Linked DNA regions of Homo sapiens. The protein of the gene in region 1 interacts with the protein of each later gene in a biochemical or structural test. Each region holds a gene or a part of one and is shown on either strand. Other genes may lie near its edges.

Evidence for each region. The genes of interacting proteins can lie anywhere in the genome.
Region 2: the proteins of MNAT1 (region 1) and MTA1 form a complex in vitro, tested with the Homo sapiens proteins (one study listed by BioGRID).

Annotation. Positions count from the first base shown.
Region 1 is NC_000014.9:60,811,261-60,814,760, reverse strand, and holds part of MNAT1 (CDK-activating kinase assembly factor MAT1), read right to left. Parts: intron 2,775-3,500; coding exon 2,634-2,774; intron 1-2,633.
Region 2 is NC_000014.9:105,457,827-105,461,326, forward strand, and holds part of MTA1 (metastasis-associated protein MTA1), read left to right. Parts: intron 1-443; coding exon 444-546; intron 547-2,531; coding exon 2,532-2,631; intron 2,632-2,938; coding exon 2,939-3,127; intron 3,128-3,500. UniProt on the Homo sapiens protein: Transcriptional coregulator which can act as both a transcriptional corepressor and coactivator. Acts as a component of the histone deacetylase NuRD complex which participates in the remodeling of chromatin.

The DNA.
Region 1 (3,500 bases):
CATTCCAGTCATAGAAAATAGAGTTTTATGACAGTGTTTTCTATCTAAGCCTCATGAATGCCCTTACCCTTATTTTTCCTTTAGTTTCTCACCTCCTTATAATTTAAGTAATCTTGCTTTCTCTTTTTTTACTCCTGGTTAACTGACTTAAATGCTTTTTTGGCAAAAGCACAGTAGAAGAACACATATATACATATTTTCCCCAATCATAGGATAATAGCATTATCAACTAGACAAGAAAGTTAAGTGTATTAACACTGCATACACACACACACACACAAACACAAAAGCCTCAGGGAAATAAATTATATGAACATAAAGGGAAAGAGAAGAATGCAAAAAGACTTTCCTGGAGAGGAAGATTTTCCGGTTTGTGAAGTCATCAATATCATACAGGGTTATAAGTATCAAATAATATAGTAATAAATCCATGAAACACTTCATAAACCTTAGTTATTATTACTGTCATTATCTAACAAGGTTGACTACCTAGGAAGCTAATTGCTGGAAAACAATAATTTGCAAAAACCCCGCTATTTCTTTCAAGCAAAAATACACTATTTTTTTATGCAAAAATATAAAATATATTGTCACAAAGTAAACAGTCAATATAAACTTCAGCATGGAGCCAAAATGAGCTCATTATTAGAAAAATAGTATTAATCAGGAGAAAAGTGCTTCAGAAACAATGTATTTTAGTCAGTTAGCTTAAAGCCATATAAACAATCTATCAAGAATATACTGGCTCATCTCAGTTATAATGTCACTCTCTCATCTGAAAATAAAATGGATATTAAACAAAAATCTTTTTAAAAATATAGAAGTAAAATATACTAGAACCTCATTTTAACATCGTTCTTAGAGTTACACAAAGTAAGTAGTGCCATGTCCACAAACAATACTCTTATCTAGGAAATCACTTTAAATCCTTCATAGTAGTTGGCATGATATAAATAAATAGGCATAAGGGTAAGACAAACTACAATATGAAAATGAAAGTCATTTTCATAATTCTTATCACTAAACTCACATTGGGATAGAGACTGAGTATCCCAAATGAATTTATATTATGCCAAATTCTAGAAAAACATAGTTTTCCCCAGTACATACTGTGTGGACTAAAGATGGCCATCACACTCCCATTAGGAGGTGAGATCTATATCCATTCCCTTTGTAACTGAGTGGGCTCTTTTACTAATATGGTGGAATCAGTGCTGTGCCAGTTTCCTAGCCCAAGCCCTAAAATGTTAGCATCTTCTACCTCCTTATTCTTGGGATATTCTCTCTTGTAACCCTGAGCCAACATGTGAGAAGTACAATCACACTGTTACAGAAATTGATGCAGTTTCTGATGTAGTCAGCCCCTTCACTAGATTCACGGTAAGGACTCCCCTCTACTAGACCCACTGCACTCAACTCTATGTGGGAGGGAGCACGTGGGTGAGTCAGCGCAGATCTAGCCAGCTGCTCCAAGCACCAATACAGGAACAAGTTTTGCATGGGGCCCGCAGTCAGACCAGACACAAGCAAGCAAGTGCAGGACCCAGCCATCCGCCCCAGGCACGGACACAGAAGCAAACTCTACGTGGGGCCCACAGCCAGACCAGGCATGTTGCCTCAAGGGGAACATGGCAGTGCCCAGGTGAGGGGGCCCACAACCCCAAAGCCCCAGGGGAAGTGTTACAGTGCTCCTTTAGTTCTGCCATCAGACAACAGTGTGTTGGCAGCTCAGTTGGCTTCTGGCCTTGTCACCTAGGGCAGCTGCTCTCCACCAGGAAGGGCAAAGTGCCAGTGTGACAGCCTTTCTGGGTACCCACACTTGGTGGGTCCCAAGCTCTTGTCTGGCATCCAAGAAGAATGAGGTCACAGGGATGGTTAAAAGATGGCGAAGGTGATAATTTTATTGAGCGATGAAAACAGCTCTTAGCAGAGAGGGGAGCTGGAGAGGGGACAGGAAGAGCAAGTCGTCTTCCCCGAAGTCAGGTTGTCTCTTCCTCTACTTACTGAGTCTGGGGTCTTTATAGGCACAGGATGAGGAGAATGTGCTGAATTAGCTTATGAGTAAGCAAAAAAGGTTGAAGTGAAGACACTACTCAAAGATGGGCATGACAGTGTAGAAAACCAATTAGGAAAGGGTAGATATACATAAAATAGGTGAAGAGTGGGGATCAATCAGAGGAAAGCACACCAAACAGGAGGACAAGTTCTCAATCTGGTCCAAGGATTTAACTTGTAGCTTGGCTTTCAGGTTTTAAACTGTCTTCAACATGGAGATGGGGTTTCTCTGGGTACCCGTCCCTATCTGCCTAGGCATTTGGCTGCCTCCTGTCGCTATCAAAACCACATGGAGAGGTGTCCTGAGAATACATTAGGGAAGCAGAAAAGCCCAAAAGAACCACTTAAATTCCTAACCCACAGAATTGTGAGCATAAAAACATATTGTTCAGTGTGGATGGAGGGCAACCTCTTATTCAGCAATAAATACACTGATATCAATACATAACCAACAAAACTAAAGGTGAACCAGATTACAAACACTGTGGAAAAGCCCTTTAAATGCCATCATCCAGCCTACTAGGAAAGGTAAATCCTGAAGAATGTTTTTTACAATCACAATTAGCATTAATACATACCAGCTCATCTAAAAAAGCCTGCTTATTCTTCCTTTTTAGAATCTGCTGCAGTTGTTCTTCTTTTTGTATAAATAATCTTCTTTGTTCATTTTCCTGTCGTTCCACTTCTAAAGCTTCTTCCAGTTCTTCCTGTTCTCGAGTCTAAAACAAAAATTTATATATGGCGTGGAATAAATTTAGGAGCCAAGAGCAATCATATACCACACTCTAATACTTTCTTTATTGGAAGCATAAAACACACTAGTCACTTATTATTTAATAATGTAGCAATTCCATATTGAAGAAAATAGAATTTACTTTATTTCATGTAGACACGTTACTATTAAATAAAACAACTATTCTGTTATACCATACTAGTGGAATTTTGCTATACTAAGGCCACTGGGAACATATTAAGGGAATTTGAGGGATGAGTTTAGAAAGATGACTAGAGGCAGTAAGGTATACATAAAGATCAATTGGGTTCAAGACTGACAATAGGAGGACTAGTTAGAAGTATATTCAAATAACCCAGATAAGAAATAAGAGCCCTACGCAGCGGCTCACACCTGTAATCCCAGCACTTTGGGAGGCCACGGCGGGTGGATCACAAGGTCAGGAGTTCGAGACCAGCTTGGCCAACATGGTGAAACCCTGTCTCTACTAAAGATACAAAAAATTAGTCAGGCATGGTGGCACATGCCTGTAATCCCAGCTACTCGGGAGGCTGAGGCAGGAGAATCGCTTGAACCCAGGAAATGAAGGTTGCAGTGAGCCAAGTTCACACCATTACACTCCAGCCTGGGCAACAGGGCGAGGTTCCATCTCAAAAAAAAAAAAAAAAAAAAAAGAAAGAATAGAAATAAGAGCCCTAAATAAAGTAATAAT
Region 2 (3,500 bases), about 45 Mb from region 1:
AGGCAGGAGAATCGCTTGAACCTGGGAGGCGGAGGTTGTAGTGAGCCAAGATCGTACCACTGTATTCCAGCCTGGGCGACAGAGTGAGACTCCGTCTCAAAAAATAATAATAATAATAATAATAATATAAATAAATAAATAAAAAGGCTTGATTTAAATTTACAAACCAACCTTCCCATCTCTTGTGGCCACAGTTCTTGGAGCCCTGCATTCTGGGTGGGCTGGGAGGCCCCTTGCGTGTGCACCCCAGCCCCGGGTTGAGAGGCCACTGTGTGCCTGTGTGTGCAACAGCCTCCGTCCAGCCTTGCACCCTGGCCTCACCTATGGGGCCCTGCAGCCCTTCCCCCTCCCCGTCCCAGCAGCTCCCCGCACCCGGGGAGGAGAGGCGCGGCCCGGCGCGCCGTGGGACCCCGTCTCAGAAAGGCCACACTTCCTCCCTGTAGGCGAGGAGGATGGCCGAGACCAGTCCAGGTTGGAGACCCAGGTGTGGGAGGCGCACAACCCACTCACAGACAAGCAGATCGACCAGTTCCTGGTGGTGGCCCGGTGAGTCCTGCTCCTGGGCAAGGCCAGCAGGGGTGGTGCCTGGAGCTTCTGTTCTCCCTTCCCTGTGGTGGGTGTTGGGGACGTGACAGTCTTGGATCCCATATCCCAACAAGAAGCCCATGCGCTGCAGCCCTGAGACCCCCGGTAGCAGTTCCCAGAGAGGCTCGGGAGTGCTGGGTCCAGGCCCTTCATTAAATAGAAGGGCGGCCCTTCTGGGGGGCAGGCCTGTGTGCCTGCCCATGTGTCCCTAATGGGGCTTTCCCAGGATGGGCCAGAGGTGCTTTCCCACTCCTGGGCCACTGGGAGCAAGTGGGCTGGGCCTGGTCATGGAGCAGAGCAGCTGCAGCCCGGGCAGACCCCTGGGGCAGGGCGAAGGCCGAGGCCCAGGAGAGGACCATGCACCTTCCCTGCCAGCAGCCTGGGAGGTGGAGAAAACCCCAAAAGAAGCCCCAAGGCGGCTGCCAATCTATCGGGATGCCCTCAGTTAGACGCACACGGGTTCTGGGGTGGGTGCCGGGCCCTACTCCGCAGCCTGGGGCCCAGGACACGAGGAGTCCTCGCCACCTGCGGGCTGCTCCCTGCGATGCTCATGCAGTCTGTCCCTGGTCCCTGGCGCCTGGGGAGCTGTGTGCCTGGGGGGAGTCCGCGCTGCCCGTGGCCCCTGGTCCCTGGTCCCTGGGGAGCTGTGTGCCTGGGGGGAGTCCGTGCTGCCCATGGCCCCTGGTCCCTGGCACCTGGGGAGCTGTGTGCCTGGGGGGAGTCCGCGCTGCCCGTGGCCCCTGGTCCCTGGTCCCTAGGGAGCTGTGTGCCTGGGGGGAGTCCGTGCTGCCCATGGCCCCTGGTCCCTGGCGCCTGGGGAGCTGTGTGCCTGGGGGCAGTCCGTGCTGCCCATGGCCCCTGGTCCCTGGTCCCTGGGGAGCTGTGTGCCTGGGGGGAGTCCGTGCTGCCCGTGGCCCCTGGTCCCTGGTCCCTGGGGAGCTGTGTGCCTGGGGGGAGTCCGTGCTGCCCATGGCCCCTGGTCCCTGGCGCCTGGGGAGCTGTGTGCCTGGGGGGAGTCCGTGCTGCCCATGGCCCCTGGTCCCTGGTCCCTGGGGAGCTGTGTGCCTGGGGGGAGTCCGTGCTGCCCGTGGCCCCTGGTCCCTGGCGCCTGGGGAGCTGTGTGCCTGGGGGCAGTCCGTGCTGCCCATGGCCCCTGGTCCCTGGCACCTGGGGAGCTGTGTGCCTGGGGGGAGTCCGCGCTGCCCGTGGCCCCTGGTCCCTGGTCCCTGGGGAGCTGTGTGCCTGGGGGGAGTCCGTGCTGCCCATGGCCCCTGGTCCCTGGCGCCTGGGGAGCTGTGTGCCTGGGGGCAGTCCGTGCTGCCCATGGCCCCTGGTCCCTGGTCCCTGGGGAGCTGTGTGCCTGGGGGGAGTCCGTGCTGCCCGTGGCCCCTGGTCCCTGGTCCCTGGGGAGCTGTGTGCCTGGGGGGAGTCCGTGCTGCCCATGGCCCCTGGTCCCTGGCGCCTGGGGAGCTGTGTGCCTGGGGGGAGTCCGTGCTGCCCGTGGCCCCTGGTCCCTGGCGCCTGGGGAGCTGTGTGCCTGGGGGAAGTCCGTGCTGCCCATGGCCCCTGGTCCCTGGCACCTGGGGAGCTGTGTGCCTGGGGGAAGTCCGTGCTGCCCATGGCCCCTGGTCCCTGGCACCTGGGGAGCGGTGTGCGTGGGGGAAGTCCGTGCTGCCCATGGCCCCTGGTCCCTGGCACCTGGGGAGCTGTGTGCCTGGGGGAAGTCCGTGCTGCCCATGGCCCCTGGTCCCTGGCACCTGGGGAGTGGTGTGCCTGGGGGAAGTCCGTGCTGCCCATGGCCCCTGGTCCCTGGCACCTGGGGAGTGGTGTGCCTTGGGGGAGTCCGTGCTGCCCGTGGCCGCTGGTCCCTGGCGCCTGGGGAGCGGTGTGCCTGTGGGGAGTCCCTGCTTGGCCGACACTGTGGTCAGCGCATCTCCTTTCCCCAGCTCTGTGGGCACCTTCGCACGGGCCCTGGACTGCAGCAGCTCCGTCCGACAGCCCAGCCTGCACATGAGCGCCGCAGCTGCCTCCCGAGACATCACCCTGGTAAGTGGGCCCAGGGCGGGACAGGTGAGACCTGGGGTGGCCCATGGCCCAGAGTGGCTGCGCCCTTCTTCCTACCAGGGCCCAGCACCTGCCCCAGGTATTCAGGACCCCTGCAGAGGTGCTGTCCCACCTGGACTGGCCTTTCCTATCCACCCCAAACTCGGCCAGACTGTGCTGAGGGTGCAGGGAGGGTTGTGCTGCTGGGCCTGCAGTAGGGGATCCTTGAGGTACTGAGGGAGGGGGTACCGTGCCACAGGTGCAGGAAAAGCCACCTTGGCCCGGGTGACCCTGCTGTCTCCTGCCGCAGTTCCACGCCATGGATACTCTCCACAAGAACATCTACGACATCTCCAAGGCCATCTCGGCGCTGGTGCCGCAGGGCGGGCCCGTGCTCTGCAGGGACGAGATGGAGGAGTGGTCTGCATCAGAGGCCAACCTTTTCGAGGAAGCCCTGGAAAAATATGGGAAGGATTTCACGGACATTCAGCAAGATTTTGTGAGTACCGTGGGTGGCGATGGGGGAGTGGCTGGCCATGCCCATCTCCAGGTAGGCTGCGGGGGTGTGGGCTCCACATCCCACTCTGCCCTGAGGGAGCCTGTCCTGCACCCTGATTCCCTGTGCGGAGCTGCATGAGTTCTGTCTCAGCTGCGCTCGGCCGCCATAGTCCTTCCTGTCACACTGGTTCAGCAGACAGGCATGGGGGCGCTGGTGGGGCCTGGGCATAGAGAGCCATGCTCCTGCCACCATTGCGTGATGAGGATAAGGGTTGGCCCAGGTGACGGAGGCCAGGGTATCCTCACGGAGACTTTCCCTTCCTTGCTGCCCCCTCCAGCCCCAGGCTTGGTTTTGCTTTGTTTTTGACTAAGCT